2 separate regions of the Homo sapiens genome follow, and region 1 is linked to region 2. The links come from fine-mapping of genetic effects on gene expression. A gene starts in region 2. The other region holds a variant in brackets. All regions are shown on one strand. Distances are between the middles of the regions.

What was found.
Region 1: its variant is fine-mapped to the expression of EDDM13 in whole blood (TOPMed, PIP 0.97).

The regions. Positions count from the first base shown.
Region 1 is chr19:56,292,545-56,309,129 of GRCh38, reverse strand. All of the region lies in intron 2 of ZSCAN5A (zinc finger and SCAN domain containing 5A), which reads left to right. It overlaps EDDM13 (epididymal protein 13), which reads right to left. Exons shown (of 15, transcript NM_001354658.2): 10 at 13,163-13,171; 11 at 12,768-12,794; 12 at 11,599-11,625; 13 at 7,035-7,162; 14 at 4,300-4,337. LOC124900420 reads right to left here. Exons shown (of 5, transcript XM_047439799.1): 5 at 1-16,585. The coding sequence starts at 2,889. The coding sequence ends at 1,771. Among named protein-coding and RNA genes, the nearest start is that of ZSCAN5A-AS1, 14 kb to the left of the region's middle. The variant G/C (reference allele first, on the strand shown) is at 6,059.
Region 2 is chr19:56,265,678-56,282,262 of GRCh38, reverse strand. It overlaps EDDM13 (epididymal protein 13), which reads right to left and starts at 9,515. Exons shown (of 15, transcript NM_001354658.2): 1 at 9,344-9,515; 2 at 6,154-6,171; 3 at 565-570. The coding sequence starts at 9,428. The region is part of intron 2 of ZSCAN5A (zinc finger and SCAN domain containing 5A); the gene reads left to right. LOC124900420 reads right to left here and starts at 9,515. Exons shown (of 5, transcript XM_047439799.1): 1 at 1-9,515.

The DNA of each region.
Region 1 (16,585 bases), 27 kb before region 2:
ATTCCTCTTTTGGGGGCTGAATAATAATCCATTGTATGAATGCACTACGTTTTGTTTATCCTTTCATCAGTTGTTGGGTACAGTCACAGCCATCAGTGTATTCTCTACGATTGCTTTGACTAGAGTAGTTGCAACAGACCATATGACCTGAAAAGCCAACACGTAATATTTGGCCCTTCACAGAGAAAGTTTGCCAACCTCTTGCCTAATGGGTTGAAAGCACACCTTTATATGAAAATAACTATCTGGTTTGACCGGTGCTTTAATGTATGGTTGAAGAGAGCCTGAGAAACCGTTCAACACCATTCATTTCCTTCAGCATCCTCCCCAGTGGAATCTGAAGGATTGCTGTTGGTTCCTGAACCAAAGCATTGCTTAGGTGAATCTTGAGGACTGAGGAGGACTTTTCTAGGTAGACAGAGATCAAGGAATCAATGTGTGCAATGGCATAATGGAGCGGGAAAAAAAATGTGATGTTTTGGGGGGAATCAGAAATGATTTAATATGGGGGGGCGTGGTGGCTCATGCCTGTAATCCCAGCACTTTGGGAGGCCGAGGTGGGTGGGTCACCTGAGGTCAGGAGTTCGAGACCAGCCTGGACAACATGGTGAAACTTCATCTCTACTAAAAATACAAAAATTAGCCAGGTGTGGTGGTGCATGCCTGTAATCCCAGCTACTTGGGAGTCTGAGGCAGGAGAATCGTTTGAACCTGGGAGGCAGAGGTTGCAGTGAGCTGAGATTGGGCCACTGTTCTCCAGCCTGGGTGACAGAGTGAGCCTCCATCTCAAAAAAAAAAGACTGGGAGCCACCGCTCACGCCTGTAATCCCAGCACTTTGGGAGGCCGAGGCGGGCGGATCACAAGGTCAAGAGATCGAGACCATCCTGGCCAACATGGTGAAACCCCGTCTCTACTAAAAGTACAAAACTTAGCTGGGCGTGGTGGCACTCGCCTGTAGTCCCAGCTACTTGGGAGGCTGAGGCAGGAGAATTGCTTGAACCCGGGAGGCGGAGGTTGCAGTGAGCCAAGATTGCGCCACTGCGCTCCAGCCTGGCGACAGAGCGAGACCCTGTCTCAAAAAAAAAGGTTTAATATGGACAGGGGATGGAATGTGGGTGGGGGGATCAAGAGAAGTGGAGAAAAGTTTAGAGAAGCAGGAGGAGCTTGGAGCCTGAGAACCCTTGGGTACCATGCCAGAGACCTGAACTTGATCAATGGGGCAGAGGCTTCCTGCCAGGTTCCCTGAAAACTTGGGATCTTTTAGGAATTCCACAAAGGTTTGCTTTGATTTTCATTTCAAAAATTAAACTATTTTTTAAAATAGGTGTGTACCCAAAATATAGCACATGGACTGAAATTTTTATTCACTGGAGAGCCACACCAACCTGTTGCATGTTTTACATACAGACCTTGGGGAAAAAATTGTATTACCTGAAGGGCATGTACACTTCACAAGGCAAACTATTAGGCATTTGCAGTGACTTATCTCTGTGGGCTCAGATTTTTCTCCGTATGAACAATTAAAAGGAAACACTGCAAGATACGGGGTAAAAGAGAGTAACGTAAGACAGCAGAGGCCTTCTGTACCCTGTGCTTGCAAATCTCATCACCTCACTTCATAATAAGTAAATGTCACACAGTTAACCTTAGGAAAAGTACCTCTGGTAATGAAAAGCAACTTAGAATTTTTTATATATTGGGATTCCATGTAAGATTTCAGTAGAAAAGTGTTTTGGATTTTCTTTCTTTTAAAGTTTGAAAGACACTCATCATAGTTGGTGAGTTTCCACTGGTGGATTTAAGCAGGACTGCAGCAGGGGGTGGGGGTATATCGTATGATCGAGTTGACATTTTTTAATGTAAAAAGGGCACTGGGGATGCCAGGGAGAGGATGAAAGGCAGGCGACGTGGGAGAGGCCAGGGAGGAGCCTCTTTGTAGCTATCAAGGGAAGAGAAATCTCCCATCTGTCCTTAGTACTTTCTCTGGCGACGTGGGAGAGGCCAGGGAGGAGCCTCTTTGTAGCTATCAAGGGAAGAGAAATCTCCCATCTGTCCTTAGTACTTTCTCTGGCAACAGGGGAGAGGCCGGGGGGGACCCTCTTTGCAGATACCGAGGGAAGAGAAGTCTCCCATCTGTCCTTAGTACTTTCTCTGGCGACGTGGGAGAGGCCAGGGAGGAGCCTCTTTGTAGCTATCAAGGGAAGAGAAGTCTCCCATCTGTCCTTAGTACTTTCTCTGGCGACGTGGGAGAGGCCAGGGAGGAGCCTCTTTGTAGCTATCAAGGGAAGAGAAATCTCCCATCTGTCCTTAGTACTTTCTCTGGCGACGTGGGAGAAGCCAGGGAGGAGCCTCTTTGTAGCTATCAAGGGAAGAGAAATCTCCCATCTGTCCTTAGTACTTTCTCTGGCAACAGGGGAGAGGCCGGGGGGGACCCTCTTTGCAGATACCGAGGGAAGAGAAGTCTCCCATCTGTCCTTAGTACTTTCTCTGGCGACGTGGGAGAGGCCAGGGAGGAGCCTCTTTGTAGCTATCAAGGGAAGAGAAATCTCCCATCTGTCCTTAGTACTTTCTCTGGCGACGTGGGAGAAGCCAGGGAGGAGCCTCTTTGTAGCTATCAAGGGAAGAGAAATCTCCCATCTGTCCTTAGTACTTTCTCTGGCAACAGGGGAGAGGCCGGGGGGGACCCTCTTTGCAGATACCGAGGGAAGAGAAGTCTCCCATCTGTCCTTAGTACTTTCTCTGGCGACGTGGGAGAGGCCAGGGAGGAGCCTCTTTGTAGCTATCAAGGGAAGAGAAATCTCCCATCTGTCCTTAGTACTTTCTCTGGCGATGCGGGAGAGGCCAGGGGGACCCTCTTTGCAGCTATCGAGGGAAGAGAAACCTCCCATCTGTCTTTCGTACTTTCTCTCCGTACCCTGGACCCTAGCCTTGACCAGGCTACCGTCATCTCGTGGAAACTGAGTAGCCTCTTAACTGGCCTCTACACTTCATGTCACTGGGACGTGTCTCTTTCTCACTGACAGCCTTTCCGTGGCTTCCCATGGCTCTGAAGGTTGGGTCTAAAATGCTTGCTCTAATCTTCCAGGTCTGAGGTGGTCTGCTGAGCATGTCACCCACACTCCTCCCATAGTGCCCTCCCACTCCCTCCCCCTTCTCCTGCCCCCATTTTTCTTTCTGACTCCAGGCACATCTAGGCCACTTTCCACCCCAGGGCCTTCGTACAAGCCAGTTCCTTCACCTGGAGGCTCTTTCACTTGTTTTCTGTGTATCTGACAACCCCTCATTCTACAGGCCTTTGATTCATTGTCACTTTCCTAAAGAGGCTTTCCTTCATCACCCAACTATCCAGGGCAAGGTTCTTTAGTTCTCTTTTTCATCATATCCTCAGCTTTTCCTCTAGCTCTAAGTATCACCTGTAATCATCTAATTGTTTTCTTGTGAGCTCAGGAATCTTGTCTGCCCCGTTCACTACTGCATCCAGGATGCATCAGTGGGTCGTTATAAACACAGAATTATCATATGACCTAGCAATTCCACTCCTAGTTTGTACCCCAAAAGATTTTAAAACAGATATTCTAACATAACTTGTTCATAGCACCACGACTCACAACAGTCAAAAGGTGGGAGCAACCCAGTGCACTTTACCTGATGATGGATAAACAAAGTGTGCTATGTCCATGCCGTGGAGTGTTATCCAGCAGAAACGAATACAGTCCTGATACAAGGTATACCATGATGAACCTTGGAAATATTATGCCAAATGAATAAACCCAGATGCAAAGGGCCACGTAGTGTATGATTCCATGTGTATGAAATGACCAGAGTAGGTGAGTTCTCAGAGACAGAGAGTAGACTAGTGGTTGCCAGGAACAGGGGGAAGAGACGATGTCTTGGTACAGAGTTCCCTTTTAGGATGATGAGAAGATTCTGGAAACAGATTAGTGGTGATGGCCACACAATATTTTGAGTGTACTGAATGTCACTAATGGTTAATTTTATGTCGTGTGTGTTGGGCCACAAGTCCTAAGACTTGTGAAAAAATTATAGAGTGAATTTATAAAGGAGTTCCTCCTGCCCGGCACATCCCTGTCATTTACAATGTGTTTCCTTGCCCCTGTCAGGCAGTGGCTTGCAAGTAAGGGTGACGAACTTGGGACTTCTCATGGAATTCTGGGTTTCTATGATTGCAGCTTCCAAATCCACCTGTGTTCCTTACCTCAAATGCCAGGCAGTTGGGATGAACCTCCCCTAACCCCACCCCAGCGGTGGGAAAAGCCCACTTCCCTGCCATAGCATACCTGATGTCCAGTTCCAAGTTACAGTAGTGGCAGTAACACTTGGGAGGAAAAAGTGAACTGGGAACAGAGAAAGAAACAGTTGGGGTGAGGCGAGTGAATTCCTTCCTTACCTCCCTTTCTCCCCATCCCCCTCTCGCTTCTTTCCCGTCCTCCCCCTCTGCTCTTTCCCTCTGGTTGTAACATCTTCTGGTCTTGCTTCTCTATTCAGCCCGCCTCTCACCACTCCCACCTTCTTCCCCATCTTCCAGCCAGTTCTCCTCATCCCCATAAGCAGCACAATCCCCTAAGCTGGGGTTTCTCAGCCTCAGGTTCCTGACGTTTTGACCTGGGTTATTTTTGTCGTGGCGTGTTGTCCTGGGCCGTATGGCAGGTTGAGTGGCCTCCCTGGCCTCTGCCCACTGGATGCCAGTCGAGCTCCCTCCTCCAGCTGTCACAACCAATCCTGTGGTCCAGACACTGCTGAGTGTCTCCTGGGTGGCAACGTCACCCCCGTTTCAGAACCACTAGCATAACTGAAGTCACTGTCTCAGGCTCATCTCCCTGGTCTCTCCATTTTCCTTATTCCTCACACCCAGCGCATAAGCAGTTCCTTTAGAACTGCTGCACGGCTCTCATCTCCATGAGCACCGCCAGGTCCCCTGCGCTGGCTGGTCGGGCCTCCTCTCAGTGTGTCTCCTCCTCTCAGTCTGTCTGCTCCCACTCTCGCCCTGATTCCGATCCACTCTCCACAGGCAGCATTGAGAAGGATCCTTTGATAACTCAGAAGGGATCTTGCTGGCGGCTGTCCACTAGCTTAGAACACAAGCTTCCTTCTCGTGGTCTATGAGAACCTTACATGACCTGGACCCCCCTGCCCCTCTCAGGTCACATAGATGTTCCTTTGGTTCCTCGAAGGTACTCAGTGTGTTCCTGCCTCAGGGTCTGCTGTGCATGCCTGCTTTGCTTGCAGTGGTTGCCCCCAAGCTGCTCTGAAGGCAAGATCCTTCCACTGTCTCATCTCTTATGTCCAGACGTTACCTGCCCGGGGAAGGCTGCCCGTGGCCATGGCTGCTCACTCTGTGATATCACCCTGATTTAGTTCATGTTTTTTGGAGCTGGCTGCTTGTTTCTCTGCAGTCCTCCTGCTATCCCAAACATGGGAGCCCTGGGGACTCAAGGACCTTATGGGTTCCGTTCTTCTCTGAGTCCCCAGCATCTAGGATGGGTCCTCTACACACGTGAATATTTGAAGACTGACTGAATCAATGAATGAAGGATGACTTGTCCTTCCTTCCATCCCTCCTTCCCTTCCGTCTTGCCTCCCTCCCTCCCTCCCTCCTTTCCTTCCTTTCCTTCTTTTTTTTTCTATTTACTTTAATTTTTTGAGACAGAGTCTCACTCTGTCACCCAGGCTGGTGTGATCTTGGCTCACTGCAACCTCTGCTTCCCAGGTTCAAGTGATTCTCCTGCCTCAGCCTCCCGAGCAGCTGGGATTACAGGCATGCGCCACCATGCCCGGCTATTTTTTGTATTTTTAGTAGAGACGGGGTTTCACCATGTTGACCAGGCTGGTCTTGAACTCCTGACCTCGTGATCCAGCCGCCTCAGCCTCCCACAGTGCTGCGATGACAAGCGTGAGCCACCGTGCCCGGCCTGGCTTGTAGTTTCTTGCACCCTGCCTTATTTTCACCTCTCTGAGTCTCGCACATGGTGTTTCTCTGGAATGCTTCCCCTGCTTCCCCTCCTCAATTGGCTAATTCCATTCTGTCCTTAACCCACA[G/C]CAGAGGTGTCACCTCCTGCAGAAAGGCTTCCATGAGCCCACACTTCCCCTAGGCTGAGATAAGCGCCACTGCCTCCTGCACTAGCACCTGCTCATGAAGTGCTACCACTCGGTGATCTGGTTCTCTCTGTGGATGTCTGCCTCCCTTACAGAATTAGGACCTTCTTGAAGGTAGCTCAACCATCAGAGTCCCCAGCAACCAGCAACAGGCTTGGTCCTTATGAACGTCCCTTAGAAAGAACAAGAGACAGCGGCAGAGAGAGAGGCAGAATGAGTGACAGTATTTCAAAGGAGCCCCTGGGGCTGTGTTAGTGCAGAAGGGAGAAGTTTTATCCCAGTCTAGAGGTGGGAGGGAGGGAAGAAGGAAAGAGAAGGAAGGAGAGAGAAGGAGGGAAGGAGGAAGGAAAGAACAGGGAGGGGGGGAAGAAAAGGAAGGGAGGAGGAGGGAGGGAGGAAGAGGGAGAGGAAGAAGAGGGAGAGGAAGAAAAGGGGGAGGAAGAAAAGGAAGGGGGGAGGGAGGGAGGAACGGGGAGGAAGAAGAGGGAGGGAGGGAGGAAGGAAAGAAGGGCAGAGAGGGAAGAAGGATGGGAAGGAAGAAGGGAGGGAGGAAGCAGACGGAGAGAGGAAGAAAGGAAGGAAGGGAGAAAGGGAGGGATGAAGGGAGGAGGAAAGAATAGGGAGGGAGGAGAGAGAAGGAGGAAGTAAGGGAGGGAAGAAAAAAGGAAGAGGAAAGGGAAGGAGGAAGGGGAGGGAGGGAGGGAGAAAAGAGGGAAGAAGGAGAGAGGAAGGAAGAATGAAATGAGAGATGGAGGCGGGTGGGAGAGTGGGAAGAAGAGAGTGTTTTACAGAAGGGCTCTCCCACCACTTCCTGCTTGGCACCTCTGAGGCACCCTCCTTCGCTTCCTCTGTGCCCCCACTTCCCTCCTCTTTCCTTCCTCTCCTCACACTCCTCCCCTCCGTGCTGCCTTCTTCTTACCCAGTCCCCTTTGTTGTAGGATACGAAGAGGTAGGTCATCACCATGTAGGCGCATTTCAGGAAGTTCCACGTGTTCTTCCTCTTGGGGAGTGGTTTCCTGGATGGGGTGGTGCCTGAGAAGGGTTTAACTGGAGAGAACCGTGGAGATGATTGATGCTGATGGCCTTCCCTTCCTGCCTTAGAGCTTCCTGTCACTGCTGTCTCTCCATTCTGATCTCCAAACTCACATCTCTGCCTGCCTCCTGAATTGAAATTTTGGTCCACACCCACCATCACTGCCAGCTTCCCCCTTCTTGGTTACCACCATACTCCAGACAAACAGTCAGGAATGCCTTTTGGCTCTCCCACCTCACATCCAAGACATCACCAAATCTGACCCTGTCTTGCCCAGATTTCTCACCAAACTGTCAGAGGGGTTTGAACCAGAGTGACTCCGTCTTGAATAGGGGCTGGGTAAAATGAGGCTGAGCCCTACTGGGCTACATTCCCAGTAGGTTAAGGCATTCTTAGTCACAGGATGACAATAGGAGGTTGGCACAAGATACAAGTCGCAAAGACCCTGCTGATAAAACAGGTTGCGGTAAAGAAGCTGCCAAAACCCACCGAAACCAAGATAGCGATTCAAGTGACCTCTGGTGGTCCTCACTGCTCATTATATACTAATTATAATGCATTAGCAGGCTAAGAGACACGCCCACCAGTACCATGACAGTTCACAGATGGCATGGCAACTTCAGGAAGTTCCCCTACTGGCCTAAAAAGGGGAGGCACCCTCAGCTCCAGGAAATCTCCACTCCTTCCCTGGAAAACTCATAAATAATCCACCCCTTGTTTATCATATATTCAGGAAATAACTATAAGGAGACTCAGTCCAGCAGTCCTTGCTGCTGCTCTGCCTATGGAGTAGCCAGTCTTTTATTCCTTTACTTTCTTAATAAACTTGCTTTCACTTTATGGACTTGCCTCAAATTCTTTCTTGCACGAGATTCAAGAACCCTCTCTGGGGGTCTTGATCGGGACCCCTTTCTGGTAACAAAACCACCACCTCTCCCCCATCCCCAGGCTTCAGGCTCTGCTCTTGATGGCTGCCTCTGCCCACTACGCCATCCTTTCTCTTTCTCATCCATCTCCCACATGAGTGCCAGCAGGATCTTTCTAGCACCAGATCCGACCGTGTCGCTTTCTTATGTCAAACCTCATGAGGTGCAAGAGTGTTTCTTTCGCCTGTGTAACATTTTTCCCTTGTCTTTTTATTTTAAAAGTATTACATTCAGAAAATCTCATTTTTTTTTTACACGTAAACCTGTCTGTCTAAACAGGTTTCCAATCAAAAAATAAAACATTACCAGTGTACAGGCAAATGCAAATCGAAAACGAAAAAAAATGAATTCTCCCTGTTGAAAATTCAGGAAGCGATTACTCCTTGTCCCCTTTGCTTAGAGCATTTACTTTAGAAAATTTTGCCATTGCAAGTCTCTCTCTCTTCAACGTTTACACTAATCTTTTTCAAAGCTAAGTAAGCCTGCGGCCAGCATTATGACCCAGGAGGGTGTTTTCAAGGACCTCGAAACATCTTCCCCAGCTTCTTGTTGGGAGGGGATGGAGCCTAACTTTGGTGGGCACCTCACCCCAAGTAGCAAATCTACCTCCTGTGATAAAGATACTAGAAGTTTATTTTTCCCTTGGATTAAGCCAATTAACAAACACAGTTGGCTATCCCAATAACCAAGTGAATTTACGGTGAACCATGTACAGCAAATAGAGCTGTCAAGTTCTTTAACTTGAGGACTAGCTGTTGTTTATCTTGAGAGCAGGTATGTAATAAGTTGTATCTGCTTGGCTATATAAAAGGGTGAAATTTTTTTTTTCTGTCTTTGCAGTCTCTTCGCATATCATGTTCTGGTTTAATGCTTACCCATTAATAAAACTATTTTCTTTCTCTTCTACCTGGGTGGAGAAGAGCTCTGGGTTTGGAGGATATTTTGTTTTTAATTATATTTCACCAACACCAGCATATCCCAAGCCTCTCAGATATACCCTCCCAATCAAAGGTACACAATCACATCTATAAAAAATGAGGCTCATCTTTCTTTCTTCACAATCCTTTTGCCTATTATTACCTTTCTCTTGCCTGGCTAGGATTTGCACTGGATAGAACGTTCAGTCCAATGTGAAATGCAAGTGGTGATAGCAAGAACGTCTCATCTGTGATCTCAGAGGGAACATGTTCTACACCCTCAGCCCTCTGTGTCGCTGGACTCTGCATCTGAGGACCCAGCCAAAAACTGGTCAAAAATACTTTTTAAAATCCCAATAAAAATAGCAATACAACAATAAAAACAATACAAAAATATAACAGTACAATAACTAAGGAGCATTTACATTGTATTATAAGTAATCTAGAGATGATTTAAAGTGTGCAGGAGGCTGTTCATAGGTTAAATGCAAGCATTATGCTATTTATATCACGGACTTGAACATCAAGGAATTTTGCTATCTGCGGGGAGGTCCTGGACCCAACCCCTGAGGATACTGAGGGACAACTGTGTTTTACCTTAAACAGCTTGTTCTTTGTAAGTTTTTGGTGGCTATTCCTTATTATATTAAGCTGTTCTCTCTACTCCTAGCTAGCTGAGATTTTTTTTTTTTTTAATCATGAACAAGGCTGGGCATGGTGGCTTATGTCTGTAATTCCAGCACTTTGGGAATCTGAGGCGGGAGGCTCACTTGGGCCCAGGAATTTGAGACCAGCCTGGGCAACATAGGGAGACCCAAACTCTACAAAAAATTTAATAAATTAGCTGGGTGTGGTGTCTCGTGCCTGTGGTCCCAGCTACTCAGAGGCTGTAGAGGGGAGGATCACTTGAGCCTAGGAGTTTAGGGCTGTGGTGAGCCGTGATCATACCACTGCACTCCAGCCTGGGCAACAAAGCTAGACCGTGTCTCAAAAAAAAAATAATGTAAGCTGTAAAATCTTACCATATTCTTTTTCTGTATCTACTGAAATGATAATGTGCTTGTTTTCTTTTATGTTAATAAGGTGGGAATACCATATATTTGTTTTTACCTATTAAACCATTGTCGCATTGCTGGAATAAAGTGAATTTAGTCATGATTGTTTAACATGTATTGCCAAATTGCACTTGCTAATATTTAGTCTAGGATTTTCCATCTATATTTATGAGGAAGATTGGCCTGAAATTTTCCTTTGTCGTATTTGTCAGATCTTTTATCAAGGTTATTCTGTCCTAAAACCGAGTTGGGAAATGACTGTTTTTAATTTTCTGGAAGATTTCCTGTAAGATCAATGTGATTTCTTCCTTTTAATTCACTATTAAAGCTAACTTGATCCTGAAAGACTTTTTTGTGTGTGGTAAGGCTATTTAATTACAGGTGGCATTTCTTTAATAGATAGAGGATTATTCAGATTTTTTTTTTTTTTTTGAGATGGAGTCTTGCTCTGTTGCCAGTCTGGAGTACAGTGGCACGATCTCAGCTCACTGCAGCTTCCGCCTCCCAGGTTCAAGTGATTCTCCTGCCTCAGCCTCCCGAGTAGCTGGGACTACAGGCACCCGCCACCACGCCTGGCTAATTTTTTTGTATTTTTAGTAGAGACGGGGTTTCACCAGACGGGGTTTCATCATGTTGGGTGGGATGGTCTCAATCTCCTGACCTTGTGATCCGCCTGCCTCGGCCTCCCAGAATGCTGGGATTACAGATGTGAGCCACCGCGCCCAGCCCAGATTTTTTATATCATTTCATTTGTTTTTGGTAATTTGTGTTTTTTTGGGATTTTGTCCGTTTTATCTAAACTTTCAATTTTATTGGCATAAAGTTTCTCCAATGATCACCTTATTGTTATTTTGTTACCTGCAAGATCTGCTATGATACTCTCTTCTTCCTTCCAAATATTGGCAGTTTGTTTCTCCTCTATTTTTTCTTGTCAGTAATGCTAGAGGATTAAATTTGTATTACGCTTTTCAAAAGAACCAACCATTAGTGTTGTTCTGGCTTTTTTTTTTTTTTTTGAGACTTGCTCAGTTACCCAGGCCGGATGCGGTGGCACAATCACGGCTCACTGCAGCCTCCACCTCCCCAGCTCAAATAATCCTCCTGCCTCAGCCTCCCGGGTAGCTGGGACCACAGGTGCTGCCACCATGCCCGGCTCTGCCTACTTTAAAACGCTCATCTCCACCATCTGGATCACTTGGTGGCTTGCTGCTATTTTCTGGTTTTCCGGCCCTCAGTCCTATCACCCAGGACTTAGCTTGGTAATTTCCATGTCGGGAAGAGAGGACTCACAGTCCACAGAAGCAGCAGCTGGGATAGAAATGTCTCCCACTCACATCTCAGTATGTTGGGTCTCCTCGATGCCCATGAGCAGTGTGAAAGGGGCAGTGGCTTGCAGACTTTGGATGCCCTTCAGGAAGGCAGCCTCTCAGGTACCAAAGCCCCTGCAGGGCCTTGATTACCTGAAATCTTCTCTTCTAAGGCTTTATCATAGCCCAGACAGAAGGGACACACTGTCTTATAGATGAGGAATGGTACGACCCCAAGCACTTACCTTCCTCCTTGCAGCCACTTGTTTCTTCTAAAAATGAAGAGATGGAGGAGAAAAAGAAGCAGGAAGAGAAGGAGGAAGAGGAAAGGAAGAAAGGGAGGGAGAGAGGGAGGGAGGAAGAGGAAGAGGAAAGGAAGAAAGGGAGGGAGAGAGGGAGGGAGGAAGAGGAAGAGGAGGAGAAAAGAAAGGAAAAGAAAAGAAACCATCAGGTGAATTATGAAGTGGGTGGAGACCAAACTCTAAATAGTGCTTCCAGGTGCCTCGAATGAGGAGAGAAGAGAATAAAGTTAGTCTCCCTGTGTCCCTGGATCCCAGGGACTCAGCTGCCTCAGGGCCTTTGCATATACTGTTCTCTCTTCCTGGAATGCCTTTCCCCCAGTTATCTCTGGCTCACCTGCCCTTCTTCTTCAAGCCTTTGCTCACATGTCATGTTCCCTGATCGCCCTTTAAAAACTTTTTTTTTTTGAGACAGAGTTTTGCTCTTGTCACCCAGGCTGGAGTGCAATGGCATGATCTCGGCTCACTGCAACCACTGCTTCCCAGGTTCAAGTGATTTTCCTGCCTCAACCTCCCGAGTAGCTAGGATTACAGGTGCACACCACCATGCCCAGCTAATTTTTTCTATGTTTACAAAATTTGTTTCAAAATAATTGTTTGTATTTTAGTAGAGACGGAGTTTCACCATGTTGGCCAGGCTGGTCTCGAACTTCTGACCTCAGGTGATCCACCCACGTCGGCCTCCCAAAGTGCTGGGATTACAGGCATGAGCCACCATGCCCAGCCAAAAAACTTAAGTTTCCCGCACTGCGTTTCCATCCCCATTACTCTATTGTCTCCATAGGACATAATAGCCTTCAGCAGACCTATAACTACTGCTCTTTGTTTTTTCTCCTCTGATTGGAATACAAGTTTCACTTGGTCACAGACTTCTGTCTGTTTTATCCTCTGCTGCATCTCTAACACCTAGAATAACATTTGGTACAGGAGAGCTAACATCAGTTAATATCTGTTGGACAAATAAAAACATGTTAAACATTTATGATGCAGATGATGATACGGATAAAGAGTGTAGGGTCTGATGATATTTAAGGGACCCCCCACCATAGAAAAAACCAGTACCTGTATATTTCTGTGCACAGGAGTGAACACGAAATAGCAGTCACCAGACTTACCATGCAGTACTTGGAGGCTCAGCAAGCCTAAGGAGGACAGGGGCATACAACGCGAGTCAGAAGGGACAGCATGATAAACACTTCCAGACCAGCAGGTCCAGCAGGCTCGCCCCAAGCCACTCCTCCTCCGAGAAGCCCTGCTGGATTGCCCGCATCGTCCTCTTGCACACTGTCCCCACTGCCACCTCCCCCCTGTGCCACACAGATTCCTGTTGTAGTTTAACTGCCTGTTACTTTTCCATCTCCCCACCTCCACTAGACTGTGAGTTGACGTGAGGGTGTGAGCTTGTCAGATCCATCTTTCAGCTTTCCACCACCCTGCCCAGCCCTAAAAAGCATTCCTCCCAAACCAGCTTCCTACAGAGTCCCGGGGCAGGCATGGAGTGAGGTGTCACCTAGGATCTCTGATGATGTCCATCCAGAAGGAGATGGGGTCCAGGAAGCAAGACAGGTCAGGGGAGCAGACAGGCCCAGAGTATGGAGTTCCCAGGAGCCGTGGAAGAGGAGGCCACATGTAGGGAAAAATCACAACATCAGAAGACAGAGCGATGGGAGCACAGGAGAGCGGAGCCCTGGGTGGGTCGTGCTGAGTAGTCAGGACATGCCACAGTGAACAGCGCAGAACAGTCAGAGGCTGCTTCGTGTGGGTTGGAGGGACGTGCAGTGACTTGCAGGATTTGCACCGCAGCAAGGTTAGGCTGGGAAGGAAGCCGCCACGCCATTCCCATCTCTTCTGTTTGTTTTTGTTTTGTTTTGTTTTTTGTTTTTTAGACGGAGTCTTGCTCTGTTGCCCAGACTGGGGTGCAGTGGGACGATCTCGGCTCACTGCAACTTCTGCCTCCCGGGTTCAAGCGATTCTCCTGCCTCAGCCTCCTGAGTAGCTGGGAGCACAGGCACCCGCAACCACACCCGGCTAATTTTTGTATTTTTAGTAGAAACGGAGGTTTCACCACGTTGGCCAGGCTGGTCTAGAACTCCTGACCTGAGGTGATCCGCCCGCATCAGCCTCCCAAAGTGCTGGGATTACAGGTGTGAGCTACCATGCCAGGCCTTTTTTCCATGTATTTTGTGTCACTCTAATGTAGGCACCTACATACTCATCCAGGGGTGGCACATTCCATCCCACCACCCGTTGTTGTTTTCTGAACTTTGTTTTTTAATAACAACTTGACTGGTATATTAATATAATTCACATAACTTATGACTCACCCATCAAGTGTACAAGACAGTAGTTTTTAGGACATTCACAAAGCTGTGCATCCATCACCACAAACAATTTTAGAACGTTTTCATCACCTGAAAAAGAAACCGTGTACCCGTTGGCCATTGCCTCCAAACCTGGTGCCCCTGAGCAGTCACTCCCCATCTCTCTGGGCTCACCCCCCTCTCCCGCGGTCCTAGGCAACCACTAAGCTGCTTTCCCTATCTGTGGACTTGCCTGCTGTGGACATGTCGTAGAGACAGAGTCATACCCTATGTGCTTTTGTGTCTGGCTTCTTTGACTGAGCACTGTGTTTTCAAGGCGCGTTTATGTTGTGTCCTGTGTCAGCACTTTCTTTGTGGCTGAATAACATTCCATTGTATGAATAGACACATTTTATTTACCCATTCATCGGTGGGTGGACATCCTGACACTTGCTTTTGTAGATGAAGTTTTATTGGAACAGAGCCATGCCCATTCACAATGTGTTGTCTACTGCTTTTGTAAATAAAGTTTTATTGGCACACAGCCATGCCCATTCACTGTGTGTTGTCTGTGGCTGCTTTCAGGCCACAAAGGCAGCATTGAGTAGTGAGTGGCAGCAGAGACCACCTGGCCCTGAAAGCCTAAGATGTTTACTATTTAGCGCTTTACAGAAAACAGAAAAAAAAATGCTGATTGATCCCTGCCTTATGTCACTGAATTCTCAAACAAGCAAAAAATATTATCTCCATTAATCAGGTAGGAAAATAGAATCTAAGGGAGTTTGGGTAAGTTACGCCCACATTATAGATGATGGGAGTAGAGTTCCCACCCAGGCCTCTTTGCCTTAAAACTCAGGCTGTCTCCACCGAACCACTTGCATCCTGGGTTAATGTGAGGGTCCGGGAGAAAGAGCCCACGTGAATCGCCCAGTACAGAGCTTGGCACCTGGTGGGCCCTTAGGCAGGTGTTTGGGATTTTCCTGCTGGGTTTGGCTTTTGCTCGTTACTGGAGCAGGGCTGGGTCTGCTTGGCACCTGGTGGGCCCTTAGGCAGGTGTTTGGGATTTTCCTGCTGGGTCTGCTTTCAGTTTGCAAAGTGCTGTCAGTGCAGCATGAGGACGGAGGCTGGAGAAGGGCCTGGGAAAAGGAGCGAAAGGAGCAAGGCAGAGGGGCCTCCTGCAGACATGGGAGTGTTCAGAACAAAGGTAAATGAGGTGGTCCTCACAGACCCTTGCTGAGCTCTTATCCCGTGCCAGACATTTTATTCAGCGGGGGGTTTCTCAACCTCCAGACGAGTGACATTTGGGGCTGGATAGTTTTTTTGTTGTGGGGGTGGGGTGTCCTGTGCATTGTAGGATGTGTAGCAACATCTCGAGACTCCCCCCATTAGATGCCGTTAGCCTCCCCTACCACCTCCCTGAGTCCTCACAACCAAAAATATCTCTAGGCATTGCCAGGTGTCCCCTGAGGGGCGAAATCTCCCCAATTGGGAATCATCCTGCCAAGTGCATGATCCTGTTTACTCCTCACAACCATATGAGGCTGGAACTATTATGTGCATTGTACCGACCAGGGGCCTGAGCCCTTCAGGAGGCGAGGGTCCGAAGCCCACGGAACTAGAAAGTGGTGCAGTCAGGACCGGCGCCCACAGTGCACACTCTCTGCCAGTTCCTCTTTCCCTTTCTTAGCATAATTTTATCTTCCTTACAATATATACAACATACAATTATAATGATAATACTTCCAGTGTAGGGATGAGGCAGGGACCTCGTTAGTCTGAGCCGCTTTGAACACTTTTGAGTTTGCATTGTTTAATAGCACCGTTTGGGATCCAGACTGGGCTTAAGTTATTCTCTGCACCTGACTGGCTGTGTGACCATGAGCAAGCGACTCTCCCTCTCTTACCACAGTGTTTTCAGTTGTAAAACAAGGACGATGACTTGGGGACTGTCATGAGTCAAGCACTTAACAACCATGCCTGGTACCCAGAACGTGCTCTTGAGCTGCAGGATACCATTTTTCAATTTGTTTTTTCAGATCAGGATGTCTTGGGTTTCACTGAGGCTCAAGCTGCATAGAAGTGGGGTTTGGAGGTGGGTGTGGGGCATGGACAGGATGGTGTCTCAGAACTGGGGTTTAGATGGCTTTGAATGTGGACCAAAAGAAGAGTGTGTCCTCAGCCGAAAGGTAGAATCAACCCAAAATTCAATCAGTGGATGATTGGATTAAAAAATGCAGTCTATCCATGCAATGGAGTATTGCTCAGCCATGAAAAGGAGTGAAGCACTGTCACAGGCCACAATGTGGCTGAACCTTGAGGACACTGTGCTGAGTGATGAAGCCAGACACAAAAGACCACATCGTGTACGATTCTACTTCTATGAGGTACCTAGAATCCTCAAACTTGCAGAGACAGAAAGTGAAATGGTGGTTGCCGGGGCTGAGGTCAGAGGGAGAATGGGGACTGACTGTTTAATGGGTACTTTTTTTTTGGTGGGGCAGTGATTATAAAGTTCTGGAGTCAGTGGTGATGGTTGCACACCATTGTGTGTGTACCAAGGGCCACTAAATCGCACACTTTAAAGTGGTTAAGGTGGGTGCAGTGGCTCGTGCCTGTGATCCCAGTGCTTTGGG
Region 2 (16,585 bases):
GGGTACCAGTGGCCTGGGGAATCCAGACCCTCCCTTCTCCAGCTGAATTTCTAGCATAAGGAAGGTCTCCATAATAACCAAGTGTCATCTCCACTTCTCAACCGGAGACTGGATGTTAATTCTGGGAAAGGAAGACGTCTTACCCACCCTGTACCATATTTTTCTCATCTAAAACCCACCAATAAATACACACAATCTAACCCAGGTGTACATTCTAGAGCAAAGGCCCCTAGATTGTGGTAGGTCATTGATCCTACTGAAAATCTGATCAAAGCTATTTCCCAGAACACCACACAGGTTCTCTTTCTCTCTGACAGCACACCCAGTTTTAGACCTAATGACAGAGGCTTGTTGGCCTCCTCAAAGTCCATCCAGTTGCACCGTTCCCACCCCGGGCAATCTGCAGATTCTGGGTGAAGAGGTCATGTTTGAATTGAGGACATCTGAATCTGCCCCAGGTTGAATGTGATCGTCAGCAGTTTTGCCTCTCTCTTTCATTCCCTTCCTTCTCTAGGTTGAAGGGCGGGCTCCCCATTTATGTAGGGAGAAGGAGATATGACTTACAGTTGACTGGAAGGGGCAGCAGAGCCAGGAGCCAGTGAATCAACATGGAAAATTCAAGGAAGAGAGTGGAATTAATATTAACATCATCCATCTCTGTTAATTTTTACATGCATTTCTTTATTCCTTCATGGAACATTTATTTGCCTGTTGTTATATGGAGTGCGATCTTTATATGGGACGCTATTTTTATGTAGTTTGTCACATAAATTTGACAAAGATCAATACAGCGATAGCATTGTAGTGGCACGAGTGTTAGAAACCCTTCTTTAACTTTGCAGTTTCAGAAATTAATCTTACAGATATATATTTATATAAATATGTAAATGTATATGTGTACATACACACACCGTTGACCCTTGAACAATACAGGTTTGAACTACATGGTTACACTTATCCACTTAGATGTGCATTTTCTTCTGCCTCTGCCACCCCTGAGACAGAAAGACCAACCCCTCCCCTTCCTTCTTCTGGTCAGCCTACTCATTGTGAAGATGACAAGGATGAAGACCTTGATAATGATCCACTTCCACTTAATGAAGAGTAAACATATTTTCTCTTTCTTAATAACATTTTCTTTTCTCTAGCTTCCCTTATTGTAAGAATCAGCATGTAATATATGTAACATACAAAATATATGTTAATCTACTGTTTATGTTATTAGTAAGTCTTCTGGTCAACAGTAGGCTATTCGTAGTTAAGTTTTGGGGAAGTCAAAAGTTATATGTGAATTTTCAACTGCACTGGAGGTTGGTGCCCCTAACTCTCACATTGTTCAAGGGTCAAATGTGTATGTGTTATGGTTTGAGTGTGTACCCCAAACAGCATGTGTTGGAAACTTAATCCCAAATGCAGCAGTGTTGGGAGGTGGGGCCTAATGGGAGGTATTTAGGTCACAAGGGCTCAACTTTCATGAATAGATAAATGCTGGTTATAAAAGGGCTTGAAGCTCTGAGCTCTCTGTCTCTGTTTCTGTCTCTCTCTCTGTCCTTTGATCATAGGATGACACAACAGGAAGGCTCTCACAAGATGCCAACCCCTCAATCTTGGACTTCTCAGCCTCCAGAAACATGAGCCAATAAATTTCTATTCATTATAAATTATCCAGTCTCAGGTATTCTGTTATGGCAGCCCAAAACAGACTACGACAGTGGTTATATCTAGATGATAAAGAAATATATATCTATATATAGATATAATTCTACATATTTCCATGTATAATCCTACAGATATAAATATGTAGATCTACATTGATATATATCCTATATGTCTAATTTCATGTAAGCTGAATTTTTCTTTGAAGGATTATTTAAAAGAGCAAACTACTGAAAACAACCTGAGTGGCCATTAGTATGTGACTGGTCAAACAAATTGTGGACTTCCATACAAGAAATATTATTCAGCCAAAAACGTATAAATAAGAGGTTGAGGATGCTCCTTATGAACTGACACAGAGTCATCTTCTGGAAGTATTATTAGGTGAAAAAAGTAAGGTGCATACAGAACAGTGTGTATAATACGCTGTCTTTTTTGTAAAAATAGAAACAAGAGGACTTTGAATATATAAATACACATTTGTTTCTACTTGCATAAAATATCTCTGGAAGGATCTGGAAGAAATAATTAATATCAGATTCTTTCGGGGAAGGGAAATGAGTGAATAGGTTGGGAAGGAGTTTTTTCCAGTATAACCTTGAGAACTTCTTTAATTCTGAACCCTGGAAATCTTATTTTAAATGAAAATAACATGATGTTTTAAATTGAATAATTAATTAGTAATTTAAATGTAATTAAAGTTTATGTAAATACTGTTTTGTTAATTGAAATATTAATAAAATAATTTAACATAAAACATTTTAATTAAAACAGCATAATATTTTAAATTGAAACAAAAACAGTGTGGATCATGAGATGTTTGCATTTGTTTAGGTTTAGAAGGTTCAGCTTTTGAAGATAGGAAGGAACTAACATAGGCTAGCTTTTTAGGTATAAAAAACCCAAAATGTTATCTGCAGGCATTTTAGCTCACCAAGTCTGGTGTGGGGATTAAATATTTTTAAAGTTTCCCATGTGATTCTCATGATGATGGTCCAGTGTGAGGATTCAGAGCTTTGGAAACCTCAGACCCCATATGGGACACTTACGATTTTGAAAATTAAATTGCATGACGTATTTTAAATTCTCAGTACATGCTAAATGCTTAATTAATATTGGATCCTTTTATCTCCTTTCAACCTGAAATAATAGCATTAAATTATGTTCTCACAGTCCTTTCCATTTTGCAAGGCTCTTTCCATTTATTTAGTCCTACTGAGCGCTAGGAATTTTGCTAGGCTATAGGAATAAACAGATTGAGTAAAGTACAGTCCCTGCCCTCTAGGAACTTACAGTCTTGCAGTCTAGTAGGGGTGGAAAAAAAAGAGATCTTTTTCCCTTCCATGTGACTTGGAGCAGAAATTCTCGAAGTATCATCCAAAGACTACTTGGTGGGGGTGGGAGGTGGTCCCTGAGATCCTTTCAGGGGATGTGATGGTTGATTTGGGGTGTCAGCTTGACTAAGGCACCCATATAGCAGTAAGACGTTTATTCTCAATGCTTCAGTAGGCACTGAGTCCATCCGTCTTCTGCTGAAAGGGAAGCCTGAGTGGTTTGGCATTTGATTAGAATGTTTGGGCTGCCCCAGGTGTGTCTGTGAAGGTGTTTCTGGAGGATATTGGGGTGTGAGTTGGAAGACTAGGTAGGGAAGATCCACCCTCACGGTGGGTGAGCACCATCCAGTTGGATGGAGGCCCAGCTGAAGCCAAGAGGTGGAGTAAGGGTCAATTCTTGCTCTCCCTTCTGCAGCTGGGATGCCCTTCTCCTGGCTTTGGATGTCAGAACTCCAGGTACTCCAGCTTTTGGGATTCTAGGACTTGAACCAACAGCTCCCTGAGCTCCCAGGCCATTGGCCTCAGACTGAGAGTTAGTTAGACCATCCATCAGCTTCCTTGGTTCTGAGGCCTTCAGACTTGGACTGAGCCACACTACTGGCCCTCCTGGTTCTGCAGCTTGCAGACCCCACAACTGAGTGAGCTAATTCCCCTAAGAAATTTGTTCTCAAATATCTCTATCAATATCTTTATCTATATATGTATCTATATGTATATCTTCATGGTTCTGTCTCTCTGGAGAACTCTGCCTAAAACGGGTCTGCATGATCTTCCCTTTTCCAACTCCTTATCTGTGTGAGATTAGATTTTCATTTGCTTCAACCAAAATAGCACATTGTGGCTGGGCGGGGCGGCTCACGCCTGTAATCCCAGCACTTTGGGAGACCGAGGTGGGCAGATCACTTGAGGTCAGGAGTTCAAAACCAGCCTGGCCAACATGGTGAAACCTTGTCTCTCCTAAATATACAAAAATTAGCCAGGCATGGTGGCATGCACCTATAGTCCCAGCTACTTGGGAGGCTACTTCGGATGCTGAGGCAAGATAATTGCTTGAACCCAGGAGGCAGATGTCATGGCGAGCCGAGACCGTGCCACTGTATTCCAGCCTGGGCGACAGAGCAAGACTACGTCTCCAAAATAAACAAACACATAAAGCTAAAAAAAAAAAAAATAGCACATTGTGACAGACTGAAGCAGAAATGAGAATTCAGCTGTTTTCTATTAAACTAGACATCAAAGAGATTTGCAAAAATGTAAAATAATACCTTTCTTACTAAACTTTTTTGGTTTGGAAACAGCCATTTCACTAAAACATTTTATTTATGTCAGTATGTATATTTATTATCCTTATTTTTCAAATATTTTTAATTTCAGTAGCTTTAGGGGTACAAGTGGTTTTTGGTGACATGGATGAATTGTGCAGTGGTGAAGTCTAGGATTTTAGTGCACCAGCATCTTTGTAATGTACATTGTACCCAAAAGGTAGTTTTCATCCCTCACCTCCCTGCCACCCTCCTTCCTTCTGAGTCTCTATTATCCTTATTTTTTTAATGCAGTAATAGATATTTGAATAATAGCTTTACTGAGATATAATTCACATACCATGCAATTCACCCATTTCAGTGGTTTGTAGGATACTCAGACTTGTACGACCATCACTACACCAGTTTTAGAGGCTTTAATCACCCCAAAATAAACCCTGAACCCCTTAGTCATTGTCTCTAAATTCCCCCACCCCTCACCCCCTGGAAATCACTAATGTCCATTGTGTCTCTATGGATTTGCCTATCCTGAATATTTCATATACGGTAAACGGAATCAGGTAATATGTGATCTTTTATCACTGGCATCTTTCACTGAGAATAATGTTTTCAAGGCTCACACACGATGTTGAATGCATCAGAACTTTGTTTCTTTTTATGGGTGAATAATATTCCATTGTATGCATAGACCACACTCTGTTTCTCCATTCATTAATGGATGCATGCTAGGATTACCTTCACTTGCTAGCTCTTAGGAATAGTGCTGCTGTGAACATTTGTGCATGGGTTTTTGTGTGGACTTACGTTTCATTTATCTTGGGCACATACCTAGAGCGGAATTGCTGAGTAACTCAGTGTTTAACATTTTGAGGAACAGCCAGACTGTTTTCCAAAGCAGCTGTATCATTTCACATTCCCACCAGCAGCATATGAGGGTTCTGATTTCTCCACGTTAGTTAGTGTGAAGTGATACCTCACTGTGGCTTTGGCTTCCATTTTTCTGATGGCTAATGAGGTTGAGCATCTTTTTATGTGCTTATTTGTAAATAGAAATAGTTTTTGTAAATATAAGTATTTGTATTTGTAAATATTTATAATATTTGTAAATATAAATATTTTTAAGTTAAAAATCCTTGAATTTACAATAAGGTAAATATCAATAAAGATAACCTTTGGCCGGGCACAGTGGCTCACACCTGTAATCCCAGCACTTTGGGAGGCCGAGGTGGGCGGATCACCTGAGGTCAGGAGTTCGAGACCAGCCTGACCAACATGGTGAAACCCCGTCTATACTGAAAATACAAAATTAGCCGGGCATGGTGGCGCGCAGCCTGTAGTCCCAGCTACTCGGGAGGCTGAGGCAGGAGAATCGCTTGAACCCAGGAGGCAGAGGTTGCAGTGAACCCAGATCGCACCACTACACTCCAGCCTGGGCGACAGAGCGAGGCTCGTCTCAAAAATAAATAAATAAATAAAAATAACCCTCACTGGAAAAAAAAAAAAAGAGCTCTTTAGATCCTTAATAATTTTTTTCGCGTGTTCAGTGGCCCTAAGACCATGAAGTTTGCAAACCACCAGCTGGTGTTAAACATAAGCCAAGGTGTTATTCTAATGGAGATCTGCCCGAAGTCTCTCTTCCCTGATAAATGCTCTTCATTTTCCGAATAGGCCTCTCTTCCCCAGACAAAGGAGTGAAGGAGGGCTGCTCTTTTAGTTGTGAGCATCACTGTAAGCAAACAATAGGTTTGCTTTTCTGAGTCATGTCCAGACCCCATGGCAGGTCTGTGCACCAGATCCAAGTGCCACCCTTCCCCAGAATTGCCAGAGAGGTTGCAAGATCGAAAAGAATTTTAGGAGAGGTAGCTATGAAAATACAGACTTGGGGGTTCCACGGTTCTTACTTTTTTCTTTAGTTGCAACTGGAGACAAAAGCATCAGCCAGCCAGTTCACAACGGGAGCAGGGAGCAGAGAGAGAAATTAGCATTAGACTCAGATCAGTGCAATAACCAAGAAGACCAGAGATAGAAGTGTCCCTGGAGATCAGCTGACCCACTCACTGCTATCAATAAAGCTACTCGGGCCCATCTATCAGCCCATCCATCCATCGATAAGTCCATTCGTTCATCATCCATCCAACCAACATTCACATGGTACATGCTCTGGGCATTGGCCCATGTTTGGTGTTGGAGACGCAGATAAATCAGATTCAGCCCCTGCTCTGTAGGTATTTGCAAGGCTGATTGGGAAGAGAAGTTCTGGTATAAGAGTACACTAGACACCCCAAACTCTGTTCTCACAGAACTTGCTATCTATGGATGTCCCAAACATCTTACAGGTGCTTCAAGCTTAGCCTGTTCAAAAAAGAATCTGTGGTCATCACACTCCTATCCATCAAAAAATAATCTGTTAATGCAATACTTTTTATTTATTCTTACTATTTTTTGTAGAGATGAGTCTCACTATGTTGCCCAGGCTGGTCTCAAACTCCTGGCCTCAAGTGATCCTCTTGCGTTGGCCTCCCGAAGTGCTGGGATTAAAGGCTTGAGCCACTGCACCCAACCAATACGATAAATATCCCTGAGTTCACGCTGATATAAATAAATACAGTACTTGAATAAATAAATGGAGAAGAAAAGTCAGCTTTTCCTTACAGAGAAAGGCCATTGAATATATGTAGATGAATAAGGGGAATAGAAAATCACCATTGGAGAAGCACTGTAGCAATCATTTCTGCAGCAAGATCCACAGATGGATGCTAAAATTAATGGGCAAAAATTGGAGGAGAACAGGGTATTCGCATAGCCTCAAAATTTCTCCCCCAGCGTATTTATTAATTACAAAGGGGGAAAATAGTAACTTAACAGTGGAGAAACCTGGCAGACACCACCTTAGCCGAGGGACTAAAGTTTACACCATGGGTAATAAGACACATCAACATCATGTGGTCCCTGATATAATTCCCGGGGAAGGGTGTGAGACCACTTCTGTGGTATTCCTGCCCTAAATGCATAGTCTCAATCCAATCATGAGAAAGCTTCAGACAAACCCAAATTGAGAGAAATTCTGCAAAACAACTGATCAGAGCTCTTCAAATGTTTCAGGGTCGTGAAAGACAAAGATTGAGGAGGTTCAATCACACATCCTAAGGACAAATCACAAGACCAAAGGAGATGGGATAACAAAATGCAACATGGTTGAGCAAGAGCTGGATTTTCTGAAACAAAACAAAACAAAACAAAACAAAAAACTTAATTGAAAATACAAGGTGGGATCCTGGATTGGATCCTCAAATAGAATAGTTTTTCTATTAGTAGAAACATTAGTAAAATTTGAATGAGGTCTGTAATTTCTTTAATAGTTTTGTTCTGGTGTTGGGTCTTGCTTTTAGTCATTGTGCTATGGTTAGGTAAGATGTTAACAGCTGAGATAACTGGGTGAAGAATATTCAGAAACTTAATTTTTGTGACTTTTCCTCAAGTCTAAAATAATTTCAAAATAAATTTTTTAAAAAACGTGTTCCTCTACAGAGTTTTTTTTTTTTTCTTTTTTTCTTTTTGAAACAGAGTCTTGCTCTGTTTCCCAGGCTGGAGTGCAATGGCAGGATCTCGGCTCACTGCAACCTCCACCTCCTGAGTTCAAGCGATTTTCCTGCCTCAGCTTCCTGAGTAGCTGGGATTACAGGCCCCTACTACCATGCCTGGATAATTTTTGTATTTTTAGTAGAGATGGGGTTTCGCCATGTTGGCCAGGCTGGTCTTGAGCTTCTGACCTCAAATAATCCAGCTGCCTTGGCTTCCCAAAGTGCTGGGATTACAGGTGTGAGCCACCGCGCCCGACCTCTACAGAGTTTTCTCATCTCAGTTAAGGGCAGCCTCAATTCCCCAGTTGCAAATACATGTATGTATAAAGAGAGCCTTTCTGCATGCTTCTCTATCCCCAACCACCAGCATCTGACCCATCACTCAATCCTGTGAGCTGTTTCCTCAGTGCCTCGTAACCTTCTACTTATCCCCATCTTCACCCTGATGACCAAAACGTTTTCTAACTTGTGTGTTTGCCCCTAATCTGATTCCCACCTAATCCATTCTTTCCTGAGGGCAAGACACATTGTTTAAACACACAGAAACACACATACATGCACACACACGCTCCTAAATATGACACTCCTTTGCTGAAAACCCTTTCACAGCTTCCTTTTCCCTGAGGATAACATCCAACATTTTTCCTGTGACTCACATGCCCCCGTCTGTTCTGTTTCCTGCCTCCTGTCTCTTCTTACTTGTAACAGTCTCACCACCATGCCCCTCCTTCTGCCTACCACGTTCCTGACACACCGGCCTCTCTCTGATGGAGGGACTCAGTGCCTTCTGCCCCAGGACCTTTGCATATTCAAGTCTCTGCCTGGAATAGTCTCTCCTAACTCTTCAGCTGGCCAGCTCCTATTCCTTACCTCAAATGTGACTTTTCTAGAGAGGCCATCTCCGAATCCCCACACTAGAATGTGTGTGTTTAGCATGAGAATTCCATGAAGACAGAACTATTTTCATCACTATATTCCCAGCATCAAGCCCGTGGAAAGAACCAGGAATAAACATTTGTGGATCGAATGAGGAAATGGGAACTCAGAGTTATGGCAAGACCCAAGTCCTCTTCCCAATATACTCTTTGGTGTCTTTACGTCGCAAAAGTCTGGAGTCTCACTAGAATTATCTAACTATGGTAATGTTGACTTCCAGGCACTGCACAACGTAAGCTCGTCAATGACATGCAACAGTCCCATGAACTGGGGATTCTTGTGAGCCCCGTTGGTCAGATGAGGACAGCAAGGTTTGCAGACGCAGTGTCTCCCCAAAGTCACAGAATCAGTGATAGAAACCAGGATGCAGACACAAGTGTATCTCCAAGGGCAGGGGCTAGCAACCTAGACTCATTCACCCCACTGTGTCCATCAAGGGAAATGTGAATGTCTAAATGGGAAGCAAGAAGAAGTCTGTTAGACTTCAGGAGCTTCTCTCTGAATCCAGCCCACAAGAGCCTCCCAAGTTGTAAGAAAATACATAGAGGACACAAGGCATGGCTGGAAGCATTACCTTCACGAGGAGTACAGGCTTCTGCCAATCCCAGGAAAAGCAGAATCAGCAGCGACATTTTCAGAAATGGCTCTGATCTGTGCATGATGGGGCTGGGATTTGGGCTGAATGTTCTCCTCCTAGGATAGACAGGACTCTCTGGTCACCCACCGTCTTCCCAGGCTCCAGGGACAAAACTAACTGCCCACACCTGCCCTCTAGCCTGCCTGGAGGCTGGCAGGTCTCCAGACCTGTGCCCACGCCACCAACTGCTGACCAAAGAACTGTATCTGCTTTTTCATCTTAAAGCAACATTTTAGAACAGTTTCATGCTGAGTGTGATGCTTGTCATCCTATGATCTGCTGGCCAAATCCTGCCCTCCTCCTGTTTTTGTAGGGCCTATGAGCTAAGAGTAATTGTTACCTTTTTTAATGGTTGGAGGGAAAAAACAAAAGAAAATATTTCATGACATGAAGATTATATAGAATGTGAATTTCAGTGTCCATGAATAAAGTGTTATTGGAACACAGCCATGCCATTTCACTATGTATTGTCTACAGCAGCTTTCAGGCTGCAAGACTGAGCTTTGTAGTTGTGACAGAGACCATCTGGGCCAAAAGGCCTAAAATATTTACTGTCCGGCCCTTTATAGAAAACGTTTGTGGACCCCTGTCCTAGACGTACTGTAAATTTCAGAAAAACAACAAAGCAAGCAAACAACATCTATCGTATTTCTACTCAGAAGTAAGTATTGTTTTTACATTTTTGTGTATATTCCTTTCCAAAGATGTCTACGTTTATACTTACCTCTAGCACTTACTAGCTATGTACCCTGAGCAAGTTACTTAACCACTCTGTGCTTCATTTTCTTGATCTATAAAGTTGGGATAATGATATTTCCAGGCTAATGTGATACTATCATATCACACCTGTATGATAGTAAATTTGTACTGTTGTAGCCATTAAGTTTGTAATAATTTTTCATAGCAGCCACAGGGAACTAACTGTTTCCACTGGTAATTCTTAGAAATTGCTTTGACAGTCAAGAACTTTAGCTGTCAGTGGGAATATGAACTTGACCCAGTATCCCTCTGGACTCCTGGAATAAAGGCAGAGTGTAGAGACCACTGGTCTATCTAAGCTCTGAAGGTTTCTATGGTACTTCCTTCAAGCCTGATAGAAACAGAGGGTTGTGTGTAGTGTCCTGGAAGGAAAGAGTTCCAGGTGTGGAGGGATGTCCACTCTTGCAGGGGACTCTCTCCTGCCGCCATCTCTGGTGCTATCTATGTTTCAATCCCTAGTACAAGCTGGACCATCTCATGTACATTAGGGGATACCTCAGCGATCCTTCAGACTAGGCTGGAGGAGAGAGTTCTTGTTGGCCATTTGCCATATTTCAGAGCTCCCCTCCTTTGTGAGCACATGGTCCTGGCAACTCATCACCGGGAAAACGTGATACTACAGGATTTGTTATAATGAGCAGAAGAAACAAGGCGTAAAACATGTGGAAGGCTTTTCACATCCGGTGCTATGCGGAAGTAAAGACCACCCAATGAAAACAAGCAAAGGCTATTAATTCAGAGCTTGCTGTAATAAGGGAGGCCACTGACACCATTTGTGTTTGGCACAGACTCAAAGGCAGGCAGGGTAGTGGGAAAGCTTATAGTGAAAGAAAGGGAAGGCTTCAAGAGTGCCTGGTTGGAGGCCGTTGGCATAAGGAAGCTGGCAGTGGTTAATTAGAGGCCATTGTGATTGGTTGGGGGAGCATATTTGGATTTCTCTGATTAGTCCTACGTTTCGATTTTCCATCCTTCCTTAGCAGCCTCATTACCAGCACAGCTGTTTCTTTGCTTTATCAAATATAATCACAGTCCCTAACTCATAACACTAGGGTTTAAATGCAACAAATGCCTGGGATGTAGAACATCATTAATATTCTTTAGCATTATCTGCTCTGCCAGACTGTGATCTGGGGACAGAGATGAGTCAGATACTGGCCTTGCTCATGAGGAACTCATGCTTTAGGGAAGATCAGGATTTCTCACCATTGGCACAGCTGACATTTAGGACTAGATCGTTTTTGTGGTGGGGGCTGTCTTCCGCTTTGTGGGATATTTAGCAACATCTCTGGTCCCTATCAATTACACAGTAGCACCTGCCCCACCCACCCCACACCAACCACCACCGCCACCATGTTTGGGGAGCCACAACTAGGAAGTGATGAGCTTTTAGTGCTTATTACTCTATTTTTATTATAACTTATTTATGTTCAAGTTTATACAATTTAGTTTTGAGTATTGGGCTATGTTAGGCAAGCAGCTAAAATGAGGAATTTTACCTCAATTTAAAAATGTTTTAAATGTAGAAAACTGAAAACGTTAACAATTGACCCTCATAAGCTGGCTCCAGTACACGTATGTAATATTATTTTGTGTGTTTTTACATTTATTCTAAATGGTGTTTCACTGAATCTTTCTTGCACAACTTGCTAGCTATGTATGTATTTATTTATTTATTTATTGAGACGGGGTCTCACCCTGTCGCCCAGGCTGGATTGCAATGGCACGATTTCAACTCACTGCAAGCCTCCGCCTCCTGGGTTCAAACGATTCTCCTGCCTCAGCCTCCTGAGTAGCTGGGATTACAGGCGTGCGCCACCACACCTGGCTAATTTTTGTATTTTTAGTAGAGACAGGGTTTCACCATGTTGGCCAGGCTGGTCTCGAACTCCTGACCTCGTGATCCACCCACCTCGGCCTCCCATAGTGCTGGGATCTTTTTTTTTTTTTTCACCCAGCGTGATGTTTGTGAGATCCACTCATGTCTATGTGGAGCAGGGAAGTGGTGCTGGACCTGGAGACGGCAAAAAACCTGGTTGTTATAGTCACAGACAGCCAATCAGTTAGAATCACAGACATTGAGTCAATCCAGTGTGGATGCCAATCCCTGCCCCACCACACTACGGCTGGCCTGAGTTTCTTCTTGCTACCATAACAAATTACCATAAAATTTGTGACTTAAGACGACATAGATTTATTATCATACAGTTCTGGAATTGAGAAGTCTGAAATGGGTTGATAGAGTGAAAAGCCTTGGTAAAGCTACATTCCTTCTGCCGGCTCTAGGAGGAATTTGTTTCCTTGCCTTCTGCAGCTTCTACAGGCTGCCCACATTCCTGACTCCTGGTCGGCCTCTTTCATCTTCCTAACCAACAGCATGGCGTCTTCAAATCTCTCTCCAACCCTCTCCCATTTTCAGGCCAGCGATGGCCGGTCAAGTCTTTCTCACCGTACATTGCTCTGATTCTCTGTTTTCATCATTCCGTCTCCCTCTGTTACCCATTTCCCTCCCTCTTTCACTTACAAGATCCTTTGTGATTACATTGGACCTACCCCAGTAATCCAGGATAATCTCCCCACAAGGTCAGCTGATTAACAGTCTTATTTTTATCACATCTGAGAGTAACACACTCCCAGGTTCCAGGAGTCAGATGTGGGTATCTTCAGGGACAATTATTCTGCCTGCCTCACAGATGCATAAACTTGCTCAATTGACTATATCCCTGAGCCTCGGTTTCCTCCTATTAATGATAGCAACAATTATTATCATTAATTATTATATTATTATGCCATATAATTGTGAATGTTTTAAAGTATATTGAGGGGATGTGGAGAAATTGGAGCTCTTATACATTGCTGGTGGAAATGTAAATTGGTATAGCCCCTGTAGAAGATAGTTTGGCAGTTTCTCAAAAAGTTAAATATAGGGCTACCGTATAACCCTGAAAGTCCACTCCTAGGTATGTACCCGAAAGCACGGAAAACAGGTAATTACACAAATATTCACACACGAATGTTCACAGCGACACTATTCACTAGAGTCAAAATATGGAAATGATTCGAATGTCCATCAATAGATTAATGGGTAAAGTGTGGTATAGCCATATAATAGGATATTATTCAACTGTAAAAAGAAATCAAGTACTGATACATGCTAGAACATGGGTGAACCTTGAAAATATTATGCAAAGTAAAAGCAGCCAGACACAAAAGACTACCTAGTGTATGATTCCATTGATACGTAATATCCAGAACAAGTAAATCCTTAGAGACAGAAAGTAGATAGTGGTTGTCGGGGACTAGGAATGGGGAGGGAAAGAGGAATGGCTGCTTAGTGAGATGGGGTGAGGGGTAAGGAAAGTGTTTTAAAACTAGATGTGGGTGACGGTTGAACAACATCGAGAATGCACTAAAGGCCACTGAATTGTACACTTAAAATGGTTAATTTTATATCATATGAATTTTACCTCAATTAAAAAAGTTTTAAATGTAGAAAAATGTGTTAAAAGCTCTAAAAATAGCAATTAAAAATCCCATGTTACCAAAACAAAACAAAGAAAACAGTACAAGCATAGGGACTGTGCATATTAAAAGTAACTAAATTTAAAAAGTATTAAAAGTAACTAAATTTAAAAATTAAACCAGCAGCAGCAGCAGCAGCATCTGAGGCTTCTACAGGGAAACAAGTGGAAATAGTTCAACCCCTCTGTACAGTTCCTGGGGCAGTCCCAGAGCTTGAGCAGGTGGGAGGGATGAGCATTCTGTCCCTGCCGCAGGGGCCATTACACCCACAGGGGCAGCGCCCACACAAGGGGTCTCGGCTGCAGCTGGCATGACTGGCTCAGCCACACCAATGCTTCTGTGTCCTGGGCAGCCTGGCTTCCCAACCCCCAAGGAGTCCCAAGCCACTGACTAGGTCCTAGAATAGACAACCCATGTCCTGGGCTCTGGCTGGCTCTCCAGTCAGTTCCTTCACATCTATCCTAGATAGAGGAGCCCTTGGAGTCTTCTGTCCCCCACTAAACAGATAAGGGAGCAATGGGTCAGAAGTTTCAGGGATTTTTCCCAGAAGGGACCTGAAAAGTGTCATCGGATTTAGCCAGGCTCTGAAATCATAGAGGTGCGGGATCAAACCTCAGCTCCCTCCACCTCCTGGCTGTGTGCACTAGGACAAGGATTTCTTTTCTTTGGACCTCAGTTTCTCAGGGAGTAAAAATGGAGGTGTCATAGCAACAGTCGATACTTTTTCTAGCACTGACTACATCCCAGATGCTCTTCTAAGAGCCTTTGCCTATAATAACTCCTACAACACTATGAGATGGGAACTGTTATTAGCGTCATTTTATAGATGAAAAAAGTGAGATCTAAAAGCATAAGGTCCACTCAGAATCACACCACTAGTAATTGGCAGGACTGGGATTCGAAGCTAAGTATATGAATCTGCAGTGAATGCTCTAAACCAGCCCTGTCCAGTAGAACTTTCTGCAGTGATAGGAATGTCCTGTATCCGTGCTACCCAGAATGGTGGCCACTAGCCACGTGCGGCTGCTGAGCACTTGAGGTGACGCTAATGCAACTAAGGAAATGAAGTTTTCATTTTATTTCATTATGAAGCATGTAAATCTAAATAGCTACGTGGTAAATCTAAATAGCTACATATATTGGACAGTGCTGCTCTAAATCATGATACTAAGCGCCTCTCAGCCTTAATAGACTATATACCTAACAGGGTTGCTATGACAGTTCTGACAGAGCCATATGTGTAAAAGCACCCTCTGTGAACCAAGCAGTCTCGGTGTTGGGGATGCACTTTCTCTAACCCTGTGGAGTTTATAGTCTGGTGTAGGAAGACAAACAACAATATTGACAAACACATATATAATTTCATGTACTGGTCATTGCTGCAAAGAAACTGAAATAGGGCCATGTGTTAGAGACCGATGGGGTTGAGATGCTGCCGTAGCTAGAGTTGTCAGGAGAGACCTCACTGAGATGGTCACATTTGAGTTTAGATCCTAATGAAGATCTGGGGTAAGAGTAGCTTAGACAGAGGGAACAGCTTGTGCAAAGACCCCGAGGCAGAAAAAAGCAGAAGGAATTTGACACGCAGAAAGAAGATCATTGTGGATGGAGCAGGGTAAGCTCATGGGAATGTGGAGGGAGGAGAGGTTAGAGTGGTAGGCAGGGGCCAGATTGTCAACAAACCTGAGTGGGCTCCGCCGTGAGAATGATAGTAAGCACAAACCAGGAACATTCCTCTTTGTCTGCTTTCCCTGGGCCCTCTTACACCCACTTGGTTCTCTATTAAATATGGGCATCTCCGGCCAGGCACCGTGGCTCACGCCTGTAATCCCAGCACTTTGGGAGGCCAAGGCAGGTGGATCACGAGGTCAGGAGATCGAGACCATCCTGGGTAACATGGTGAAACCCCGTCTCTACTAAAATTACAAAAAATTAGCCGGGCATGGTGGCAGGTGCCTGTAGTCCTAGCTACTCGGGAGGCTGAGGCAGAAGAATTGCTTGAACCAGGCACCGAGATCGCGCCACTGCTCTCCAGCCTCAGTGACAGAGTGAGACTCCATCTCAAAAAAAAAAAAAAAAAAAAAAGTGGGGGCATCTCCCAAGCAGAAAGCAAAGCCTAAGCCTACTCACTTCTTTGGGGAGAGAGGAAGAAAGTCTTGGACAGTAATTGAGCATCCTCTTTGGGCACCTGCCCCAACAACTTCACACACATTATCATCTCATTTAACTGAGGTTGGATCTGCAAAGGCAGCTTGGCTTGGCAGAAAGAGCGGGAGCTTTGGAATGAGGGCCTAGATCTCACCGTGGGCTCTATCACTTGGTGCTATTTTTAGCAAGCATGCAGTAATAATCATAATACTCTCAGCAGTTAAGCTTAATTGGGTGATTATGATGTGCCAGACGTGGTTCTAAGCACTTCATATCTATTAGCTCATAATTTTAAGAGCTGGGTAGTATTATAATTTCTCTTTGCAAATGAGATAACTTTGCCCAAAGTCAACAAAGCCAATAATTGGAAGAGGTAGGATTTGAATCTATACAGGTATGATTGACATTTGTGAACTTGTTTAGCTGCTAAGTCTCTATACCCTGATTTCCTTTGGAAGAATTACCTCTGCTCCACTGTATGTGGTCCTGGTGGGATAGTTAATGCACGTGCCCATTTTCTCATAATGAAAAGCAAGCAGGGTCCCTCAAAGCTCCTTGCACCAGATCCTTATTTTTACACTAAAGCCAACCAACCTTTGTCCTAAGCCAGGCTAATCAGACTGCTTACCTGGCACTTTAAATCTCGAATTGAGTAAAGCAAGAGTGGAAGAAGCAGATTTAATGCTTTTCAGGTGAGAGTGTTGAGTGGCTCATGATACAGAAATCTCTTGGTTTCCCAGGCTTCACTCTTTC